7 linked regions of the Homo sapiens genome follow. The protein of the gene in region 7 interacts with the protein of the main gene of each other region in a biochemical or structural test. Each region holds a gene or a part of one and is shown on either strand. Other genes may lie near its edges. The genes, in order: IFT52, IFT80, IFT27, IFT46, IFT74, IFT57 and UBXN10.

Region 1 (3,500 bases), on a different chromosome or scaffold from region 7:
AAGGTGGGCAGATCACCTGAGGTTGGGAGTTCAAGACCAGCCTGACCAACATGGAGAAACCCCTTCTCTACTAAAAATACAAAATTAGCTGGGTGTGGTGGCGCATGCCTGTAATCCCAGCTACTGGGGAGGCTGAGGCAGGAGAATCGCTTGAACCCAGGAGTTGGAAGTTGCGGTGAGCCGAGATCGTGTCATTGCACTCCAGCCTGGGCAACAAGAGCGAAACTCCATCTAAAAAAAAAAATTTTTTTAAGTAGCCAGGTGCGGTGACGCATTTCTATATTCCTAGCTACTTGGAAGGCTGAGGTGGGAGGATCACTTGGGCCCAAGAGTTGGAGGCTGCAGTGAGCTATGATACACCTTGCACTCCAGCCTGGGTGACAAAGGACCCTGTTTCTGAAAAATAAATAAATAGAAACAAAATAGAATATTACATACCTGTTAAAAGAAAAATGTAGCCTGGGTGCGATGGCTCACACCTATAATCCCAGCACTTTAGGAGGCTGAGGCAAGAGGATCACTTGAGACCAGCCTGGGCAACACTGTGAGACCTCTTCTCTATAGAAGAATAAACAAAATTAGCCGGGCATGGTGGCTCACTCCTGTAGTACCAGCTACTCAGGAGGCCCAGGTGGGAGGATTGCTTGAGCCTAGGAAGTCAAGGCTGCAGTGAGCTAAGATTGTGCCACTGTCCTCTAACCTGGTTGACAGAGCGAGACCCTGTCTCAGAAAAGAAAAGGCCAGGCGCAGTGGCTCATGCCTGTAATCCCAGCACTTTGGGAGGCCGAGGCAGGTGGATCACAAGGTCAGGAGTTTGAGACCAGCCTGGCCAAGATGGTAAAACCCTGTCTCTACTAAAAATAAAAATAAAAAATTAGCCAGGCATGGTGGCAGGTGCCTGTAATCCCAGCTGCTTGGGAGGCTGAGGCAGGAGAATTGCTTGAATTCGGGAGGTGGAGGTTGCAGTAAGCCAAGATCACGCCACTGTACTCCAGTCTGGGTGACAGAGTGGGACTCCATCTGAAAAAACAAAAAAGAAAATAAAAAAAATGCAGGGCATAAACTTTGATTCGGAATGTCCATAATACATCATTAAATGATGAAGTCAACTTAGAAAACTATTCTAGTTTGATCCCATTTTTGTGAAAACTTACATTTACACACAGAAGCATACATAGCAATAATAATTCTAGGTAGTTGGTGGCAGTAGAACTAGGATGAAACATTGATACAGCTGTGGGTTTGAATGTCTTAGTAAAAAACATACATTTCTATCAAAACTTAAAATGCAAATCAGAGGGAGAATAAATTAATTACAGCTGGGCTCAGTGGCTCATGCCTATAAGCCCAGCACTTTGGGAGGCCAAAGCAGGTGGATTGCTGGAGCTCACGAGTTCGAGACCAGCTTGGGCGACATGGTGAAACCCCGTCTCAAATACAAAAAATCAGCCAGGCGTGGTGGTACACACCTGTAGTCCAAGCTACTTGGGAGGCTGAGGTGGGAGGATGGTTTGAGCCCAGGAGGCAGAAGTTGCAGTGAGCTGAAATCATGCCACTGCACTCCAGCCTGGGTGATAGAGCCAAACCTTGTCTCAAAAAAAAAAAAAAAAAAAAAAAAGGAAGAAAGAAATTACAGTATAATGTGAGAAGGGCAGTAATGGCTGTCTATCCTACATGTAGGGCTCCAGAGGATGGCTTCACAGAGCTATGTTGTTGGTGGAATTATGGGTGATTTTTTTCTTTAATTTTCTTTCTATAATATTGTTTGTTTTTTGGGGTTTTGTTTTGTTTTGTTTTGTTTTGAGACCTAATTTTGCTCTTGTTGCCCAGGCTGGAGTGCAGTGGCACGATCTTGGCTCACCACAGCCTCAGCTCACTGCAACCTCTGCCTCCCGGGTTCAAGCGATTCTCCTGCCTCAGCCTTCCTGAGTAGCTGGGATTATAGGCATGCACCACCACGCCCGGCTAATTTTGTATTTTTAGTAGAGATAGGGTTTCTCCATGTTGGTCAGGCTGGTCTCGAACTCCCGGCCTCAGATGATCCACCTGCCTCAGCCTCCCAAAGTGCTGGGATTACAGATGTGAGCCACCACGTCCCCCAGGCTGGAGTGCAATGGCGTGATCTCAGCTCACTGCAACCTCCGCCTCCCAGGGTTAAGCAATTCTCCTACCTCAGCCTCCCGAGTAGCTGGGATTACAGGTGCGCACCACCATGCCCGGCTAATTTTTTTGTATTTTTAGTAGAGACAGGGTTTCACCATGCTGGCCAGGCTGGTCTCGAACTCCTGACCTCGTGATCCGCTCACCTTGGCCTCCCAAAGTGCTGGGATTACAGGCGTGAGCCTTCACGCTCGGCTGTTTTGTTTTGTTTTGTTTGAGATGGAGTCTGTTCTGTTGCCCGGGGTGGAGTGCAGTGGCGCAATCTCTGTTCACTGCAACCTCCATCTCCCCAGTTGAGGTGATTCTCCTGCCTCAGCCTCCCGAGTAGCTGGGATTACAGGCCTGCATCACCACATCTGGCTAATTTTTGTATTTTTAGTAGAGATGGGGTTTTGCCATGTTGGCCAGGCTGATCTTGAACACCTGACCTCAAGTGATCTACCTGCTTCAGCCTTCCAAATTGCTGGGATTACAGGCATGAGCCACCACGCCCAGCCAATACAATATTGTTTTAGTAAATGCTATTTTTAATTACCCATATGCTTCTCTATAGTCATCTTTGTTGCATTCAGGGAATGATAATTTGATTTCCTACTGTTGCACCTGTTCTTTCTAATGTAGGAATACTAGATCTGAGGAATAGGAAAGCCAGTACCAGTCCAGTTTTATTCTGATTAGGAGTGCTTTTATTATAAAAGCAGCACATTAGAGAGCTCTAGGGTTTTTCAGTGTTGAAATCCTGTAGTCACATTACTTTAGGAAGAGGTGAGTGATCTTAGGAAATGTGGAAACATGACAGGGCATACCTGAAACACACTAAGTCTGTACTTTGGGAAGGGCAGAAGTTAAGAATTAATCTAACTACTACTCCAACTGTCTTAGGTACTGAAGAAGACCTGGAATTTTATGTCAGGAAGTGTGGTGATATTCTTGGAGTAACCAGTAAACTACCAAAGGACCAACAGGATGCCAAACATATCCTTGAGCACGTCTTCTTCCAAGTGGTGGAGTTCAAGAAATTGAACCAGGTACAGAGCCTACAAGGCACAGTGTAGTGGGAGCCCCTCCAGTACTGGTATCTTCCATGGACTGTGCTTGCCATGTTTTATGACGTTGATTCAGCCTGTAAATATTTATTAAGCATCTACTAGGTGAACAAAACAGACAATAAACCCTGTACTTATGGAACCTATATACTAGCTGGAGGATGTAGACAATAAGCAGTAAACATAAGTGAGTCACATAGGATGCTAGAAAATGGTAAGTGCTTTGGTATAAAAGAAGTGGAGGCTGGGCGCAGTGGCTCACGCCTGTAATCCCAACACTTTGGGAGGCTGAGG
Region 2 (3,500 bases), on a different chromosome or scaffold from region 7:
TGAGCCACTCTACAATGTATGCTCACCACAACAGCCCATGTGGCTGATTTAAAATAAACCACAGCCAGGTACAATGCCTCACACCTGTGATCACAGCACTTTAGGAGACCAAGGCAGGAAGACTGCTTGAGGCCAGGAGTTCAAGACCAGCCTGGGCAACATAGTGAGACCCCCTTCTTTACAAAAAAATAAATAATTAGCCAGGCATGGTGGTGAATGCCAGTAGTCCTAGCTACTTGGGAAGGCTGAAGCAGGAGGACTGCTTGAGCACAGGAGCTTAAAGTTACAGTGAGCTATGTTCATGCCACTGAACCCCAGCCTGGCCAACAGAGTGAGACCCTGTCTCTAAAAAATATAAATTAGATTAAATAAACCACTGCTGAACACTCTTCAGTGGCTTCCTATCTCACCCAGAGATTTAAAGACAGTTTCTACTGAAAAGTGCTTTCCTTTCACACCATCATAAAGTCAATATAAATCATGTCAAACCATCATAGTCTGAGACTGTCTGTATATTCAAATCTGTTCATTACAGAACTCTGAAATACTATCAAAAATTAGAAATTTAAATGTTCATAGATTTTACATCCCTGTGTGGATATATGTGTTTATAATATGGAAGGGTTAAAATCAAGAAAATATAATTAAGAGTTAGACCTAAGTAAGCATTATGCTAATTGAAAAAAGCTAGTACAAAAGGACAAATACTGTATGAATTCCACTTATATAAGGTACCTAGAGTAGTCAAATTCATAGAAACAAAAAGTAGAATGATGGCTGCCAGGGGCTAGGGGAAGGAAGAATAGGGAGTTATTGTTCAATGGGTACAGTTTCAGTTCTGCAAGATGAGTTCTGTGGATGGATGGAAGAATGAATGGATGTGACAGTGGCACAACTGTGGATATACTTAATGTCACTGAACTGTACACTTTAAAAAAAAGATGGTTTTTAAAAAAGAAAATAAAAGAATTAGATTTAGGAAATAAAACTAAGAGGTAAAAGCACTAACAATAAGAAAAATTTTAGATGATAAACAGGGAGACCATGACTTGTCAACAAGAATGTACCTATAGATAAGAAGTGGCAGAAAAATCTCTAGTAGTGAACAAGAATGTGAAGAATAGATAAGAAATTCAAGAGCTAGATCACAAGCATATTTATACCGAGTTTTCTTTGGGTCACTTGCATACTAGTTAATAGAGAAAGCAGGCTGGCTTATTACTAACCAAGGTCCTATTAAAAGAAGTACAGTTTTTATCAACGGTCCCCTAAATTGATAGCTCTGACCAGACTCCTGTGTCTCTTCTCCAATAGAGAAAGAAGAAAGGAGAAAGGCAAGCCTTTTATTCAGATTGGTGCCATCACAGAACTTGCACACTTGAGCTGAGATCTCTTGTACAGTAGAAAAGAGAGAGAAGCAGGCTCACCATTTCCAGGCACGGACTCAAAGGCTTAGCCACAGCAAACAGTATGGCCGTTTACTTTATCAGGGGTGTCCAATCTTTCGGCTTCCCTAGGCCACATTGGAGGAAGAATTGTCTTGGGCCACACATAAAATACACTAACATTAATGATGGCTGATGAGCTAAAGAAAAAAAAAATCACAAAAAAATCTCATAATGTCTTAAGGACATTTACAAATTTGTGTTGGGCTGCATTCAAGGCTGTCCTGGGCCGCATGTGGCCCATGGATCGTGGGTTGGACAACCATGGTTTAATTAGTAAAGACCTCCAACTCCCACCCCATCTCAATTCCTGTATGCATTTGCGAAAGTGTATGTGTACGCTGTGGTATTTACATTTCCTTGAAATTCTAGCTATGATTAATAGCCATACTTCAATATTATTCGTATTGGCTATACTTATAATGAAAATTAGCTGGGCGTGGTGGCGGGCGCCTATAATCCCAGCTACTCGGGAGGCTGAGGCAGGAGAGATCACTTGAACCCAGGAGGTGGAGGTTGCAGTGAGCCAAGATTGTGCCACTACGCTCCAGCCTGGGCGACAGAGTGATACTCCATCTCAAAAAAGAAAAAAAAAAACTATTTTAAAAATGAGATGAATTTGTACATGTTGATATAGAAAGATGTCTATGTTAAATGAGAAAACCAAGGTATACAGCTGTATTATATGATTCAATTCCTTTTGTGAAAAGAAAAAGTGAGATATATTTAAGCTGGTGGATACCAAAACATTTTCTGGGAAGATATGCAAGACACTTAATAATGGAGACCCCTAAAAGGGTGGGGGCACTGGGATGAGAAGGAAAGCTTTAAATTCTAATTTTATATGTTTCTGTTCTGTTTGAAGTTTTCAACAATGCTCACAGTATTATTTAATCTATCCACTTATATATTTAATATAGAATTATCTGAGTGAAAGGATTATGACCTAATTTTTATGCATTTCTGCATTTCTATAAAACCCTAATAAATAATATTTTTATAAGATCACCATTCTCCACACTTGAATCCCCTTCTTATTAAAACTCTCACCTGGCTTATCTTCATGAAGATACTATACTTTGTTTACTTTCTTATGTAAAATGAGGCTAATAATACCTACCTGACAAATTAGTTATGATGATTAAATGAGATAAAGTATGTAAAGTGTCCAGTAGAGTACCCAATACACAGTAAGCACTTAATAAATGTTAGTATTTCCAGTGAAAGTTGTTTTTTCACCCTGCATATATATAGTCACTCTTTTCCCACCTAAAAAGAATTTCTCTTTGCAACAACCACTTCCTCACTGTTAGCCCATGTGGCATGAGGCCCAGACTTAAGCCAATTAGAGCATTCCATTCCCTTTGCACAGACTGTTTCACAGGTGGCCCAGGACTTTTATTCAAATCAATGCTGGGGAAGAGAAACTCTCATTCCCCCTTGGATTTTAATTTTAGAAGATATGAGGCTGGAGTTGCTGTAGCTATCTTACCACAGCAAGGGGAGAGCCAAAAGGTGCTAGAGGCCATCATACGGAACCTGAAAATACTGCCAACACAATGGAGTTCAAAGCAAGGAAAGAAACCAAATCCTTGTGTCTTTGTCTGAACCCTTAATCCAGTTATAGTCACCTGACTTTTTAGTTCCAGGAGACAATATTTGTTTTTTCTCAAGACAATTTGGATTGGGTTTTCTGTCACTTGTAATCAACAGGCTCCTATCCTAGATATTACTGTAATTATTTCTTCTTCTTACATTCTAAAAATGAACATTTCCTTAATATCCTTGGTCTGGTGCTAGCTTCTCTCCACTTACAATCTTAAAAACCTAACCTATTTTTAGTGATCCAGTTATTCTTACAGCACTACCCATTTTATTTTCTCTCTTAAGCCATACTCTCTACCTCTACTGCTTGTTGAATATATCTTTCCAGAATTCCAACCTACGGAATAAAAACATACTTATCTTTCAAAATGATATTTCCAAAAAAGAGCTGTTCTGCCTTCTAGCTTCCTGGGTTTTCGGTGATAAGTTATGTGTGTTTCGGTAACATTA
Region 3 (3,500 bases), on a different chromosome or scaffold from region 7:
AGCCTGCAGGTGAGACAGCGCCACTGATGGGGTGGGGAGGGGCATCTCAGAGGCGCCCATGGGGCACCAGCCGGATCCACCCAGCAGGTGTGGAGTGGGCCACGACAGACCCCAGCAAACACGCTGCACTCCTGGCTCCGGTCTCTCCCTCCCGAAGACTGTGAGAGGAGGTGCCACTTTAAATCAAGTTCAGAATTTTGACAATCACCCAGGGCTGGGCACTTTAATACCTGAAATCGTGAATATCTTTGTGACTAAAGGAGCCCAAAAGAATTTTTGTTACCTGAGAGAGAAAAGAGAAGTTCAGGAACTTGCCCTAGATTTTATCTAAGCGGTGGAAAAAACGGGCCCCTCCAGGGTGCACAGGGACAGGCTGGAGGGCAAAGGAAATGGCGCCCTCTCTCTTAACAGCCACTCTCACTCTGTTGGGTGCACGTGTGCATTCAAAAACTTTCTCAGAAAAAAGTTGGCAGAAAAAGGAATGTACTACTTTCAAGACAGCAGCTCAAGCTATGAATGCACTAAGAACCTGTTTTGAGACGATCCCTGGCAGCTGGCAAAAGTGCAACCTTGAGAAGAGGCCGTGAAATATCCCCAACGAAACAGAAGGATTTCCAAACTGAAGAACGTTGCAGAAGGCATCAAGCGCGGTGCCTTCGCTTCACAGATGAGTAGTTTGGGGCCCAGCGGGTGAAGCGGCCCAGCTGGTTGGTGCAGAGCCCAGCCCAGCATCCAGATTCTCTGATTTGGGAAGAGCTACCTTTCCTCGAGGCCAGCTGGGATGTGCGAAGGAAACCAGGTCCCGTGGAGAAAGTTACCTGGACTTTCTAGCAAGGGAAAGCCTAAGTAAAGAAAACAGTTGGCCAAGAGGAAAGACAGTGGTGGCAATGCTGAGAGAGTGCCGAGGAAAGAGTGGAGAGTTTGTAGCCAAGACGAACATTTATAGTAAGCTCCCAACAGCCAAGGACTTGAAAGCCATCACCGTCCAGCTGGACACGAGAGCAAGAATTCAGTACATCCTGCCGGGCCCTGCTAGTTGTGCAGAGCACAAGGTCCTAGGCAAGCCAGTGTCGGGGTAAAACACTGCTTCCGTCGAAAGTAGAGTTAAGAATGGAATGGAAAAAGACTGAGGCCTGCATAGCGCACGCACGGGGATTTCAAAATGGATTCGAAAACACTCCACAATGCAATCTTGGGAGATCGCAACATAAAAAGGAAGGAATTCAATGCAGGTGAGCCTCAATAGACACCACGGCGTGCTTCTGAAATAGATGAAAATTGAACTGTTTTCCAAATACTTTGAGAGGGTTACCAATGACAGGAATCCTTTCGTCTGATCACTAATCATCATCTCGCTTACACAGTCAGGACAGCTGTGGAGTAGGTCGGCTTAGAGGGATTCTCAGGGCAGGTTCAGGCTAGTGTTCAGTCTGGCCTTGAATTGTGTTCTGCAGAGTCCCACAGCAGGCTCCGCAGGAGGCCAGGGTACCCCTTCTAGAAAACCCAAGTTTTCCAGCTGGACAGGCCTGACTCCTAGTCCTGTTTCTAGCCCTCGTTTAACTATGCAACCAGGGCAAGCTACACAACCTTTCTGAGTCTGTCATCTATACAACACAGGAGTGTTACCTTGTAGGGCTGTTATGAAGCCTAAACAAATAATGTGTGCAAAACACCTAGCACACAGTAGGCCCTCATCAAACGTTACTTCCCCACTCCTCGCTTGCCTGGGAGGGCAGTGATCAGCGCGGATTGTTCTTGCACTTGTTTGTAGGGACCTCCTTTGGGTAGGCAGGATGGTCACTGCGGTGTTTAGGCAGAAGAGAGGAGGAGATGAGCTTGGCGCCAGCCCTTGGCTGCGTCTCAAGCTGCGTTTGCTTATATTTCCTTTTTAATTACAGCTTTCTTAACCGAGCTGCCAGCGGTGCTTCTGTGAGCCTCAACTCAGGGGGGACTAGTTAACTTGCACAGATAATAGCAAGTGCTTACTGCAGCCTCTTCAAGAGTAGTTCACACCCACCCACCCACTTCAACACCTCAACAGAGTTTAACCCGTAGCCCACTGGCCTTTGGTGACTCCTGTTTTGGAGGTTGGGGTGGGTTTTAATTTCTGAGTTCTATCAAGCGTTCTAGGGAATATGGAATATTGGGGTGCAGGGACAATTTCACAAATGAATGGAGGAAGGGAGAATACTGAAATCCTGTTTGCTAGGGCACTACCGCCTACTGCTTTGCACAAAGGTGTGCTGCAGAAAAGATGGCAAACCCTCTATACAGGAAAAGCTGATTTGGGCTTCATTAATTTAGCATTTGTGATAATTGGACCAGAGGCAAGGGTGATATTTATCTCTGCACAAGCCATGAATACAAGGATTTAGTAAGTAATAACAGTATAAACAAGATTCTAGGGGTAATATTTATACTTTAAGAAAGCTAACATCTACTGAGTGTTTACCAGGCGCCAGACTCTGTGATCCATGTTTTATATGCGACATATTACTTGATTCTCATATTTATTACTCGATAAGGGATGTATTTTATGATCCTCACTTTACAAGCCTGAGCCACCAACAGGTGAAATAACATGTCCAGGTTCCCACGGCGAGTTCTGCCACTCACCATGGGAGGTCAGAGTGCCTGCCTTTACTGCTGTACTTTCCCTAAGGAAGCATGCTGCTTTGGGGGAGTTTTATAAGCTCGGACGGCAGCACTGGTCAAGGTTCCTAGATGCAATAGCAGAAGTGCCTAGAGCCAAAGTCAAGCTGGAGCAGAAGATGACCTCCAGAACATTAACCAGCCCATGACTCAATTCTGAGGGCCACAGAATCAGGTCTAAAGGCCACAAGGTGAGGTCCAAGTTACGACCATGACTGTGCCAGGCCTGGTGATCTCCCCAGCTAGCAACCCTGGCGAGGGGCAGGGCAACCAACACTCGGGCCCCTGCTGGCTCTGAGATGGATGTTCAGGGCCACACCTGTTCCTAGAGGGCAGATCATCACTTCATGCCCTTCCTAGTGGAGTCTCATGTGAGGGGTCTGATTGGTGCAGCCTGGGTCACATGGCTGCATCTTGGCCTCAAGGAGGATGGGACTTTAAAACTCCCAAACACAGGAAGCAGGTTCCTCAGTGCTGGACAGCTAAAATCATGATACATTAGGTTGGTGCAAAAGTAATTGCAGTTTTTGCCAGGAAAAGTGTACTGAAGACGCTGAAAATCACTTGCTTTTTGTAATGAGGTCTTCTGCTCTTTTAACTGGCAGGCACTTTGTGGCCTGGAGTCACCCTGGGGCTGCAGCAAGGTGAGGATGGGTGGTACCGATGGGAATTAGAGGCCATGAGTCCTAATCCTGGCTCCACCCTTCGCTAATCATGGGACCTTGGACAAGTCACTTGAGCTCCTCAACACTGGAATGGGAGCTGTGGGGCCAACTTCTGGTTCACAGGACTGGTTGTGAGAGCCACATGAAACAATGTTCCAACAACATCTGAACCCAGAATATTGC
Region 4 (2,445 bases), on a different chromosome or scaffold from region 7:
TACAGGGTATTACTCTATGCCCAGGCTGGAGTGCAGTAGCTCAATCTCAGCTCACTGCAGCCTCAACCTGCTGGACTCAAGCAGTCCTCCCACCCCAGCCTCCCAAGTAGCTGGGACTACAGATACTCAACACCACACCCGGCTAATTTTTTTGTAGAGATGGAATTTCACCATGTTGCCCAGGCTGGTCTCGAACTCCTAGGCTCAGGCGATCTGCCCACCTCAACCTCCCACAGTGCTGGTATTACAGGCGTGAAGCCACCACGCCCCACCAAGATTGATTTCTTCTGAGGGGTCTCTTCTTGGCCATCTTCTGTGTCTTCCCATGGTCTTCCCTCTGTTATGCGTCTTTGTCCTGATTTCTTCTTCCTATAAGGACACCAGTCATACTGGATTAAGGCCCACCCTAATGACCTTGTTTTAATTTAATTATCTCTTTAAAGATGTTATCTCCAAATATAGTCACATTCTGAAGTACAGGGAGTTAGGAACTCAATATCTGAATTTTAGGGGAACACATTTCAGCCCATAACCTGTGTCTTATGCTAGAAGCTCTTTTGCTTCAGAGAGAGAGAGTGGTTCTGGGACCACTGACACCATCCTTTTGACTTTGGTCCTTCCATGCCCCTTCCAGGTAAGCCTGCCCACGGCAGAGATTGATTGCAGCCTGGCAGAGTACATTGACATGATCTGTGGTGAGTTCCTCTTTCCTTTCCTCGTCCCCATCTCTGGATAGAGACACTCTAGGCTTTTGGACAGGCTTGTTTACTCTGGGAAGATAGTATCTTGAGTTTCAGCCTTCACTTTAAGCCCGTTGTGCTCTTTGGCAGCACTCAAAGGTGGTGTTTGGCTTATGTGACTACCTGCTGGGTATTTAACCCCCAAAGTCATAGCGACACCCCATCTGCCAGGGCTTTGCCTGTGCTAGACAGAAGGGCCTCTAATTCCCGGAGTTTGTTTGCTTCTGTTCCTGGAAGTTCTTCTTCGTTTCAGCCATTCTAGACATCCCTGTCTACAAGAGTCGGATCCAGTCCCTCCATCTGCTCTTTTCCCTCTACTCAGAATTCAAGAACTCACAGGTGAGCCAAGCATCAGGGGTTGACTTAAGCTGTAGAGAGGATCACTATAGTTTCTACTGTTCTGAGCCTGCTGTGATTGCATCCTATAGCGATGTAGGATGTCTCTGCCCAGTTACCTTCGCCCTTTCCCATAATTAGGAGAGCAAAGGAGGCAGGGATGGAGTTTTCAAGGGGAAAGTGGAGGAAAAAAAAGGGTGGGTGGAAGTAGGAGTTGTGGGCCTTAGATGAAATCAGGTGAGGATCTACAGAGGACACTCGTTCTTTCAGAACCAAGTTCCCTCATGAATGGAAGCAGGAAGGAAATAAAGGGGGTTCATTTTAAAGAAATTAATTCTTGTTAAAATATAGCAATTAGCATATCCCTAATACTCAATATTCCCTCTCCTCTTCCTTGCAGCATTTTAAAGCTCTCGCTGAAGGCAAGAAAGCATTCACTCCTTCATCCAATTCCACCTCCCAAGCTGGAGACATGGAGACATTAACCTTCAGCTGAGACACTTCCCAAGCTGCTGTTTCAAGGCTGAGCTGGCCCCTCTGCCCCAGCTGAGATGGACAGATCGTTGTCAGCTACTTGATGTCCTTGCCCATGCCACAGCTTGGCTCAGGGGCAGTGCATGTCCTGCTGCCCTCTCTGCCAGAGGGCACAGAACATGTTTGTTTAATGAACCTGCCTGCCTCAGATTGCTGTCCCCGGGGAGTTAATGCATCTACACCACTGTGGGGATTTGAGTTATAAGAATTGGAATTTCTGAGATCCCATGGAGGTTAGATTGGGAGGAAAGCTTAAAAGATGTCCTTTTTGTGAGAGGGATGGAATTGTTTTCTTTCATTCGTAAAGTTAGTGAGTAAAGATTTTATAAATCAAATGCTCTATTATATTGTCAGATTATTCTGCTATTTAATATGAAAGAGAAAAGGCTGACTGAGCATAACGCAGAGACACAGGAACTTTGCTTAGTAATGGGCATTAAATGAAGAGTAGTTAAAGCAAACAAATTTTGTGAAATAAAATGAAACCCCAATCCTCCAAGATTGGCAGTCGAGGGGAATCATTTTTCCTCTGGAATTTAATTTTTCTAAGGGTCTCTCTTCAGTTAATGCCGCCTTCCTGAGGCTGTCTGGCTCCAGACCTGTCTGGTTCTGGTCTCAGGGAGCGTAGCTATTGCGGTAATCCAGGTGAGAGGTGATTGGGGTGGCAGTAGTAGAGATGGACAGATTCAGTAAATATTTTGGAGTTATGTCAGCCAAGCTCCAGTCAGGAAGTCTGAAACCATGCTAGTTATTTCTAACAAAGGGTGTTTAGCCAGGCACAGTGGCTCACGCCTGTAATCCCAGAACTTTGGGAGGCCCAGGCAGGCAGATCATG
Region 5 (3,500 bases), on a different chromosome or scaffold from region 7:
CGGCTCACTGAGAGCTCCACCTCCCGGTTTCACGCCATTCTCCTGCCTCAGCCTCCCAAGTAGGTGGGATTGCAGGCACCCGCCACCACGCCCGGCTATGTTTTTTTTGTATTTTTTAGTAGAGATGGGGTTTCACCGTGTTAGCCAGGGTGGTCTCAATCTCCTGACCTTGTGGCCCACCTGCCTCGGCCTCCCAAAGTGTTGGGACTATAGGCATGAGCCACCGCACCCGGCCCCATTTTCAGCTTTTTAAAGGATACATTCTTTCATCGCAAAATTATTTTGCTCAAGGTGTTGCCACTTTCTCTCCAAATTTGTAAGCTAAAAACATAAAAGAAAAATATTAATTAGGACCCATATTTAAAACAATTAAATGCCTTTCTAAGAGGATAAGACAAAAAAAATCTCTCCAACTTTAAATCTTATCAACTTACATTTTATTGAGATAAAGCCACGGTAGAAAAAAAAAGATTAAATAATAGTAAATATATTAATACAGTGATGAATCCTATAACATGTTTTACTCTATATATTTATTTTAATTATATTTTAAATGTTTATTATACCAATGAACATGCCAACTGAAAGACAATTTATGATTTTCCTTTCCCTAAAAAAACTTTTAAAAGAAAAATGGGACATGATGGGAATCTCTTCTTAAAATCTGGAAGTCTAATGCCACAAATATAATACATATTCAAACACTGTCAAAGGTTCAGCCATATAGGAGAAACTTCCTTATTTCCAGGGCTAAATTTCCTGTGTAATTCCACAAGCTGTGATAAGAGCAGAGCTGCAGTGTGAAGATTATAAGAGAGCTGGTAAAAAGCTGGCACTGTTACAATAATTTCTGCATCAACAGGAAGCTAATGTGGATATTATATTGATGGTTGCTTCCTCAGAAGACAATTTTACTGTTATAGAATTATATTGTTTTTCTGATTTAATTAACCTTGTAACTCTGGTTATGGTCTTTCTTTTTTAAGATGCACATAGTTTTTTCCAAAGCAAAGGACCATTTGAAAATTGAAATGCTAAAATTATGTTCCACCTGGACATTTCAAAGAAGTAATGATTATTTTTAAAAATACAATAATTGAAGCAACAGTGGAAATGTTTCTATCCTCATGTTAAAATAATTTTCAGGGCGTAAATTCAGGCTTGATGTAGATCCATCTCATTGTTTCCTCCAAAGAGATAAATCTAGATATTAGAATGAATCATAGCTAATTAATTATGTGAACTGTATGTGCTGTGAGCTGGTATTACTAATCACATCAATCTCCCCCAGACAGGACCTTGAAGTTAAGATGGACTTAAGGAAGCAGTCAGCAGTTTCTGGCAGTAAATTTCTAATAACCTTCAGCAAAGTCAAGTACCAGACTTTTTTGTCATTGTTTCATACAAACAGGTGGCCTTCTTATAATGCATCAGACCTGTTAAGTGCTACAGGAATGGTATAAAAGCAATGCTGTGTCAGATGGTCAAATTCCTTTTACATTATACCTCTATATTATTGACTCCTTTAAACCTCCAAGGACATCATGAAGCAAAAATTCATTTTGAAAATCTGTTTTTCCCTAACTAGTTTAAATAATCTGTTACATAAAATTCTTTAGAGATGCCAAAAGCCAGTTTTCAAGAAGATAATTGTGAAAGATAGGAAGACCAGGATTTGACTTAATCAGTTGGGATTCACAAAAGATGACAAATAACACAGAGAAGGATTCGAAATTGTGGCTTATGTTATGATTTCCAGTTATCAATACATGGAGTTAAAATTAGCAATTAATGTGGGGATAAACAAGTTAACCACTCACTGGCTCTAAGAAATGGTGTTTTTCAAGTGCTTTCCACCTTAAATCATCTATTCAGTGAATGAGGAGGGCTAATATTCCATAAGAAGTATCAGTATTTTTTTCCAAGAATTGCTGAAGACAATGACCTCCCAAACTTTGTCTTGTTTCTTCCCCAGCACTCATCCTCACTCTAAACAACCTAAGAAAATTGTGTCAATTATAAGTCTATATCTAGGTTTCCATATGAAGTAGAACAGAATAACTGGTAAATTTGAATTATGTAAATTAGTGATTTCTAAGCTTTTAGTAGTTGTAGCAAGCTTTCATGAGATTCTACCCTTTTCAAAAAGAATGTAAGGTGTATGTTGTTTTCAAATGGTACATCCATACAATGAAATAGCTAATGCTATAGAAATGTCACCAAAGGCCGAGTGTGGTGGCTCACACCTGCAATCCCAGCACTTTGGGAGGCCGAGGCAGGTGGATGACCTAAGGTCAGGAGTTCGAGACCAGCCTGGCCAACAAGGTGAAACCCTGTCTCTACTAAAAACACAAAAAAATTAGACAGGCGTGGTGGCTGGCGCCTACAATCCCAGCTACTTGGGAGGCTGAGGCAGGAGAATTGCTTGAACCCAGGAGGTGGAGGTTGCAGTAAGCCAAGATCACACCACTGCACTCCAGCCTGGGTGACAAGAGCAAAACTTCGTCTCAAAAAGAAAAAAAAGGCTAAGCACAGTGGCTCATGCCTGTGATCCCAGCACTTTGGGAGGCTGAGGCAGGAGGACAGTTTGAGGCCAGGAGTTCAAGACTAGCCAGGGCAATACAGCAAGACCCTGTCTCTATAAAAAATAATAAAAATTGGCTGAGCATGGTGGTCTGTGCCTGTAGTCCTAGCTACTCAGTGGCTGAGGCAGGAGGATCGGTTGAGTCCAGGAGCTCCAGGTTGCAGTGAGCTACAATTATGTCACTACACTCTACCCTGGGCAACACAGTGAGACTCTGTTTGAAAAAAAAAAAAAGAAGGCTGAAAAAAGTTAAGAAAATGTTGAAAGACTGTATGAATAGCATGGTTTTATTTTTTGTAAAAACAATATGGATGTATGATTGCAAAGGATGAAAATACTACAAGGATATGGCACCAAAATGTTAACAACGGTTGTACCTATGTAGTGGAAAATCAAATGACATCATTTTTATTTTGCTCTATCATGATCACATAACCATATGAAGAAAAAGAGAGTTTTGTTTTTTTTTTGAGACAGAGTCTCGCTCTGTCACCCAGGCTGGAGTGCAGTGGCGCGATCTCAGCTTACTGCAAGCTCCGCCTCTCAGGTTCAAGCCATTCTCCTGCCTCAGCCTCCCGAGTAGCTGGGACTACAGGCACCCGCCACCACTCCTGGCTAATTTTTTGTATTTTTAGTAGAGACGGGGTTTCACCGTTGTTAGCCAGGATGGTCTTGATCTCCTGACCTCGTGATCCGCCCACCTCAGCCTCCCAAAGTGCTGGGATTACAGGCGTGAACCACCGTGCCTGGCCAAAAGAGGGAATTTTTAATGCATTTAGGGTTTTAAACCATGTGTGCAAATTTCTAATATAGACTAATTAGATATAAGAATGATCAATTTTTTTCAGACCGTAGTTATTGACTTTGTACATGACACATAATGCTTCATTCAATCATTCAACAAATAATTGCTGAG
Region 6 (3,500 bases), on a different chromosome or scaffold from region 7:
TTGAATCAATAGTTTGAATGTTAAAAACCTCTAAATTATAGTTAAAAAGCCTACCCTTCTCAGCTGATTTATAAGAAAAACAGTACGCTGATTATCAGACATTTTTGTACAATGAATCTCTCTTCAAACAAGCAACAAATAATTTGTTTTATATATTAATACTATTTTGTTAAGTAGGTTTCTTGAAGAGCTATTTTTCTCTTGCTCAGTTTTTCCCCTAAAATGAGCATGTACTTACCACCATCAGTCATGCTGCTGCCCTTTTCTTCCATTTCTTGTTTTACCTTTTCTAATTCTTCCATAACCTTTCATGAAAACAAGTTTTCATGAGCATTACATTTTAATAAACTTTCACAATTTTTGAATTATGTGTTAAGAAAATGTAATTTAGATATTAGCCACACATATAGAAAAATAAAGATATTAGGAATATTTTGGACATAATTCAAATAATATAAAGTATGCAGATATACAAAGCTTTTCAGTTTTTCAGAATGCTCCTAATGTTAAACTTCACCAAATGGCTGTCACATCTGTTTTCTCATGTTGCAATATACTAAACACAATCAAAGTTGTTTTAGTCACTAGACACTCAAACCTCGCAATTATCTCATCGCATATACTTTGAAATTCTCTAATAACTGGTTATTAATTAAAATAGTATAAACATCCTGAAGAGATTTTAGATTTCTAAAGCTTTTCTGGGTATCTTTCTTAATATTATAGTTCTATAAGACATTATGTCACTTTTTCCTCTATAGGACACTAAAAAATGTTTATATCATATGGCTATATATAAGAATATTCTTATTGCTTTATCCAAATCATGAACTCCGAACTCCAAGGAGGCATACTTTGCTGTCACACTTGTTCCTATCTGCACTCTATCTGGCGATTATACTACTATAACCTCTATTATTAGCAAAATTCCAAACCAGCATTAATATAAGTAGAAAATACTATCTTTAAGAAATTGAAAATTTTTTACATGATCTACAACTAAGCTATAATTATTGTGACTTAGTAGGCTTTATTTTTATCATACTGGTGAGTAAAACTTTCCCTGGGAATAAAGTGCTCATCCAAGTAAAGCAAATTAATTTTTTCAGGCATCTGAAATGTTACAACTGGGGATAACTATCTACTCCAAAAGAAGTAAATGGTTCCCTGGACTCCCTTCAAGTGTTAATTTACCTAACATAAGTGAACACTTTACTTCTACATACTGTTTTATTTGCTTAGAAGCACCACAGGATTACAGTCTAAATATTTCTGATGTTATATTTTTAGTGTTTTAAAATAACTTTATTCCTCAAATAATCTCTATAAAAGAGGTTTAATTCTTTCCTGTCAAAACAGTAAAGTTTGTTCCAATTATACTGGATTGTAACCAAAGATCATCTTGGATTTTAGTCCCAAATAAACTACTGACCTTTTTTCAAGGTTTTTTCCTCCTTTGGCTCTTCAGTGAAAAATGGGAATATATATCAGGTCCTACCTCTCTTGCAAGATCATAAAAATAAATGCAACTATTTATTTTTATGCAAATATTCTAAAGGAGGAGGTTATAAGCCACTCCCAATTGTGGACAGAGAAATACACCCAGGATCACACACAAATTATCAATAACAGTCACTAAAAATAAACCTTATATCTTGCAGACTAACGTTAAAATTTGTTATAGATTCCTTAAGTCAGTGCTTTACTATTCATCCCCATGTTAATAATAATTATTATGTAAAAAATGTTGAGGAAAATTATAAGTGTGCTAATATTATGAGCAGGTTTTATGTTGAATTTAATACAGAAACTTCAGGCATCCTGTGGAAACAAGAAATGTATCAATTATTGATTCAGTCATAGGAAAATTAGGGATTATCTCCTAAAGAAAATGATTTAAAGGCACAGGAAGCAACTGAAATTAGCAGTGTTAAACCATTTGTAGGTTCTCAATGGCTGGGGCCCAGCTGACAGGTGAGAAGCAGGGCAAGAGCATCAGTGTGTACCTCAGAGAGGAGTCTGGTTCTTTCCGTCACTCCTCCATTTCCCTGCTGGTATCGCTCCTTTGCCTGAGAGGAAAAACATTTTGTTTAATGGCAAATTCAAAGCAGCAGCAGATTAAATACGACTGACCTCTTTGTGTTTGCAATTTCTGCAGGTCATTTTATGACAACCCTGCTCCTTGTTTGTGAATACATTTGTGAAAGTGACATTTAACTGTAGCTGTTTTATGTCCCTAATAGGCAGCATGTATTTAACTAAGTACTACAAAATGATGAACTACCTTAACCTTCACAAACTGACTGTGTACCTCGCATGGGCATGGTTCACAATAAAAACTGTCCTTGGTCATTCCTAAACAGTTTAGGAGAGGGGCTCTTGGTCAATCTAATTTGCATGCTCCGCAGAGAAAGTCCGTTCTAAAACCAAAAATCAATCAAAGTAGAGCATGAAGCTCAATGATGAATAAGGATTAACATCCCGTAAGACAGTACACTCAACTGGAGTATGTCAGAAACTAACAATCAATTATATAATATTAATATTAGACAAATACATGGTGGCTTTGATCAGAGAGTTTTACATCATTTTGATAGTTAAAATATTCATAAGTAATTGTGTATATGAAGGAATAATACATTTAACAAATAACATCAAAAAGTGTAGATTTCTATTTAGTCTTTGAGGACTTCTGAAAGTATAGAAGTATCTCAAATTTACTTCTACTTTTTTCTCTTTCTCAACTTTGTCTGCTGAAGACAAAAAATATGCCTTCAACTGATGTTTGCAACTGTCCTTACTAGCCTTCTTTAACATCAGAAAATAGGGGGCACAAATCCCAAAGGAAAGCTTTTAGATCCCTACTGCTGGGACAAAGAACTGGTGCTTTCAAAGTCTAGTGATTTTATTTTTTGGTTAAAATTCTAAAACTTTGAAAGAATGAAAAATTTGTCTCATTTTATTAATTAAACTGCTTGTCTCTGAATGTATCTTGCTTTCACATTCCTTATTATGTGGTTGTAAGCCAGAATGGCAAGGACTGTCTTTTTCCTTTGACACATGTAAATGCATACTATTCTTCTTCCTCCTACGCCAATGGTAAATTAACAACAGACTTATAGAAGCAAAACCAGGTGTCCTGATACTCTGTTCCTGTTCTAAGCTATGTTCCCCCAACAGCATATGCCTTCATTTACTTAAATCAAATGAAGACGTGCATTTAAAGACTTCCAGGAGAAAACAACTTCTATTACATGTGAAATGGAAATAAGTTCACTCGGCTCTCTTGGCTTCCTAAAGTGGGCAGAAAATTGATGTTTTGCTGTTCATGAAAAGCATTTCATGATTCTCAAATGAACAGTATTGTGTCAAGTTTAGGGTTTAGGGTTGTTAACTTGAATAAATCCTTGGAAATCATTCTTAAATTACCTCACTCAGCTGGGCTTGAGCTGCACGATATTCTTGAACCAAATTCTCAAGCTGATTGTTGATGTACTTTT
Region 7 (3,500 bases):
CCCCACTGCACAGATCCCCTCATATAAACACGAGGTGAGCATGAAAACTATGAAACTAGGAGCTTTATTAATTAAGCCCCAGAATGATGGCTTTGTTTGCCTTCCCAAGAAGAAATGCATCCCCAGTCAGCTGCTGGACTGGAATAAATGGAGGGAAGGGTGGCAAGAAAGGGAGGGATGAAGGACAGGAGATAGAGATAAACAGTGTATTTAACTAGAACAAGGATTTCTTATTAAGTAACCTTGGTCAGCAGTCATATCATACCCCTAGAGGTAGATGATACTTTTAACTTATATCTCAACATTAAGTGAAACAGTGACCTTAGTTTTATCTCTTAATTAAAACAATGAATAGCTTTGATTTTCTCTGTACACTTTGTCCAAAAACACTCGTGCATTTCCTTGATGGGAATGTTCCTGCTGGTCAGTGTCTTTCCCCTGCCTGCCATGTGCTTTGCTGCCGTGGTGGTTGTTTGCTTGTTTGTTTTTGCAGAAACAATCCACGTTGGCGATATTGGTCAAGCTAAGTCCACCTGGGTGAATCCCAACTTGTCAAACTATCCTTTTTTTTCTCCTTAAGAAAATGGATTATATGTCCAGAATCTGGCCACCTCTCATGACATCTCTGGCTACCACCCTGGCCCGAACCACCATCACCTCTCTCTGGTCACCTTCATACCTCCAGCACTCAAGTCTTCCATCTTCCACCCCAGCCCCTCAACACGGCAGCCAGAGGGCGCCTCTGAGCAGGACAGTCTGAATGAGGCTTGCTCAGTTTTACCCGTGGGCATTTGTCACCACAGTCGTTCAGTCTCTTGGGATAGGATTTAAGTGTGTCCAAAAATACCTCCAGAGATTTGTGCTTCCGCGTCGACTGTTAGGAGGGCTGCTGCTTCCTAAACTGTTTGAACATAAAGGCACACAGATGAACGTCAGAAAGGGCTGGGAGAAGCTTCCCTAATCAGGAAAGGAAAGTGGCACGCCACCCGTGTAGACAAAAAATAAAACACCTAATTTTAGTTTTATGAGTGTTGTGTGTTGGTAACTGAGTCACCAAAAGTCTGTTCTCCTTTGATTGCTAACTCCTCCGAAGCGACCTCAGGCCTTCCCTGTTATATGGTGGGGTTTGGTTGGTTCTGGTTTCTGGATGAGAGTCAATAGGCTCGTGAACTTTTAACTTTACTGTGGGGTGTTGCCTTAATGGACTGAGAAAACAGATGTTCCTGCTTAATTCTTGGAATGACTTCTAAACTAATGCTAAAGCAAAATAATATAGCTGTCTTCTTTATTCCGTTTAAAAGGTAGAAAAGTAGATCCTCTTACCATGTAAAAGTCTCTTTTATCCGAACTTATTATGAGGATTTTATTTTTAAAACTAAGTAAAGAGAAACATCTTTGTCCCAAGAGGCAGGGTGGCTTTATTTGACATTAGAAACCCATTTAAAACGGCAGGTAAGAGCATGAACAAAAGCAAAGTTTAGTTCCTCGAATGCCTGCTTTTGTAATGCAGGTGGATCTGGCTCTAGTCTTTAAGGTTATTAATTGGAATGAATGCCCCAAGGCTGCTCTTAGTTTCTCTGTGAAGCATTTTATATGGGAGCTCTGGGGTGACTCTGGGTCCACAGTCATGTTCACAAGCCATCTCTTCCGCAGGAGTGCCCTGCCTTGAAGGCTGTTGGCTGGGTCCCCAGATATTCTCAGGGCAAGATCTGTTGTGTTATAACCACCTGCCATCTGTTGGTGCAAATTTTCTGGATTCTAGATGATGAATCACTTACTTCTCCTGCTGTTCCTTCTGCTGCCAAGACTAATTTACCTATTGGACTTTATGAGGGAATATACTAGAGTAACCTATCATGAAGGTTTGTCCTATGCAAAGTTCCTACTCCATCACTAGAAAAGGTGGGCAAGAGCTTCCTTAGCATCTCCAGAGGGTGGGATGAAGAGCCAGCAGTAACAATGTGGGATCCTCACTTTGGGGTCCTTTGCAGATAAAGCTATAGCCACTGACTTCAGTAAGGTTTGAGTTGAGAGTCCAATGGTGGGTTCATGTTTTCTTGCCAACACTTTCTTTTCAGGACACCCATGCTTGTCTCAAAGTGTGGCACTGGGTAAGCCCTCAATGGCCATCGGTTAAATGAATAACTGAGGTCTATGACCCCAAACTGGGCAAGGCTGACCCACCCAAAGCCACCAAGAGGAGTGTGCTAGGCCGGTTGAGCCCATTTAGGACAGGGGGCCTCAGCTGCAATGCAACATGTGGAGCCATCAGGAACTCTGAATTCTGATTTAGTTTGTTCTTGCCAATCCCCAAAATCAGAGTACTTGGAATGATGTTTAGGAAAAATTCAGGTGACTCTTATCCAGACAAGCTAAGTGCTGTGACAGAAGCTGAGAGCAGGAGCCCCGTCGCTTCTGCAGTGGGCATCAGAAGTGTCCGGGGAGGAGGACTTGGTTCTAACAGTGGAACAAGTGCTTTCCCAATGAGAAAACTGAAGATCAGGCTAACACACCCCTCTGTCCAGTCGTGTGTGGGAGCTGAAGCCTTAGGTTAAAATACGAGATGCACTTCTCCACTGACTCAGTTTCACACAAGTTGGTTTTTATCGTATCATCTTTTGTCCAAAAAAAAAATGTTTATTATGATGGTTTGAGTCTAGCTTTATTCACATATCCTAAAATATCCTAAAATATTTCTATGCTTATGCCTTCCACTTTTTCCCAACCCCAAAATTCTAAGCTCACCAGCAGCAGCAAACCCTAAGCACAGAAGATTCTAACTCCTTCAAGCTTGCTCCATTTCACTCAAGTTTTCTAAAGCTTTCCTGTCTGGAGAAATTACCAAGTCCCAGGTGGGTGGGATTTTATTCTTACCACAGAGTAGGTGTGATTTTATGGGAGGCTCTTCCCCCAGCCTCCTAGATCAGACATAGAGTTATGTGCTCAAGTCCTGGTGGGAAGTGAAATTCCTGTACTTTTAGGTGCTGGGCTCAAATTCTGTCTGCTGTGGTCATTAACGGGAAGAGGTGGCCAGTTGTGTGGGCCTGCCTGAGGCACCACTGGCCCCAGCTGACCTTTCCAATCAAAGGAATGGCTGACCAAACCAGGATGGTATTAAGAAATTCTATAAAACATTCAGAAATAACCTATTCTAGAATGATCTGGGCAGTGTGGGATGCAGTTAGGACCAGACCAGCCTTCTTCTGAGCAAATGGCAGTGGTGCCCATCTCCACTAAGCCTCAACGTGCGAGAAAAAACACTCCCAACCATGCAGCTTATCTGAGCACAGGATGCGCTTGTTGCTGGGGTAGCCACATGTATATGCTTCTGGAACTCCTGATTCCTGCCTTCTCTCTGTATACCCAGGAGGCGGGAGCACACACCAGAACTCAGGACTTTGTGATGACCATGCTTTGGGGGAACAACATGCACAGAATGTCTGAGTGTTCCCTACTCTGAAGGATGATTTGGCCATAAAAGGGATCAGATGAGTCATGGA

The links.
Region 1: the proteins of UBXN10 (region 7) and IFT52 form a complex in vitro, tested with the Homo sapiens proteins (one study listed by BioGRID).
Region 2: the proteins of UBXN10 (region 7) and IFT80 form a complex in vitro, tested with the Homo sapiens proteins (one study listed by BioGRID).
Region 3: the proteins of UBXN10 (region 7) and IFT27 form a complex in vitro, tested with the Homo sapiens proteins (one study listed by BioGRID).
Region 4: the proteins of UBXN10 (region 7) and IFT46 form a complex in vitro, tested with the Homo sapiens proteins (one study listed by BioGRID).
Region 5: the proteins of UBXN10 (region 7) and IFT74 form a complex in vitro, tested with the Homo sapiens proteins (one study listed by BioGRID).
Region 6: the proteins of UBXN10 (region 7) and IFT57 form a complex in vitro, tested with the Homo sapiens proteins (one study listed by BioGRID).

What each region holds. Positions count from the first base shown.
Region 1 is NC_000020.11:43,639,437-43,642,936, forward strand, and holds part of IFT52 (intraflagellar transport protein 52 homolog), read left to right. Parts: intron 1-3,042; coding exon 3,043-3,188; intron 3,189-3,500. UniProt on the Homo sapiens protein: Involved in ciliogenesis as part of a complex involved in intraflagellar transport (IFT), the bi-directional movement of particles required for the assembly, maintenance and functioning of primary cilia. Required for the anterograde transport of IFT88.
Region 2 is NC_000003.12:160,392,726-160,396,225, forward strand, and holds part of IFT80 (intraflagellar transport protein 80 homolog), read right to left. Parts: intron 1-3,500.
Region 3 is NC_000022.11:36,759,120-36,762,619, forward strand, and holds part of IFT27 (intraflagellar transport protein 27 homolog), read right to left. Parts: intron 1-3,500. UniProt on the Homo sapiens protein: Small GTPase-like component of the intraflagellar transport (IFT) complex B that promotes the exit of the BBSome complex from cilia via its interaction with ARL6. Not involved in entry of the BBSome complex into cilium. Prevents aggregation of GTP-free ARL6.
Region 4 is NC_000011.10:118,544,043-118,546,487, reverse strand, and holds the end of IFT46 (intraflagellar transport protein 46 homolog), read left to right. Parts: exon of another isoform or gene 1-340; coding exon of another isoform or gene 341-369; intron 370-634; coding exon 635-695; intron 696-993; coding exon 994-1,079; intron 1,080-1,476; coding exon 1,477-1,572; 3' UTR 1,573-1,945; downstream 1,946-2,445. UniProt on the Homo sapiens protein: Forms part of a complex involved in intraflagellar transport (IFT), the bi-directional movement of particles required for the assembly, maintenance and functioning of primary cilia. May play a role in chondrocyte maturation and skeletogenesis.
Region 5 is NC_000009.12:27,057,412-27,060,911, reverse strand, and holds part of IFT74 (intraflagellar transport protein 74 homolog), read right to left. Parts: intron 322-3,500; coding exon 261-321; intron 1-260. UniProt on the Homo sapiens protein: Component of the intraflagellar transport (IFT) complex B: together with IFT81, forms a tubulin-binding module that specifically mediates transport of tubulin within the cilium. Binds beta-tubulin via its basic region. Required for ciliogenesis.
Region 6 is NC_000003.12:108,163,425-108,166,924, forward strand, and holds part of IFT57 (intraflagellar transport protein 57 homolog), read right to left. Parts: coding exon 3,430-3,500; intron 2,070-3,429; coding exon 2,007-2,069; intron 306-2,006; coding exon 239-305; intron 1-238. UniProt on the Homo sapiens protein: Required for the formation of cilia. Plays an indirect role in sonic hedgehog signaling, cilia being required for all activity of the hedgehog pathway.
Region 7 is NC_000001.11:20,192,596-20,196,095, reverse strand, and holds the end of UBXN10 (UBX domain-containing protein 10), read right to left. Parts: 3' UTR 46-3,500; downstream 1-45. UniProt on the Homo sapiens protein: VCP/p97-binding protein required for ciliogenesis. Acts as a tethering factor that facilitates recruitment of VCP/p97 to the intraflagellar transport complex B (IFT-B) in cilia.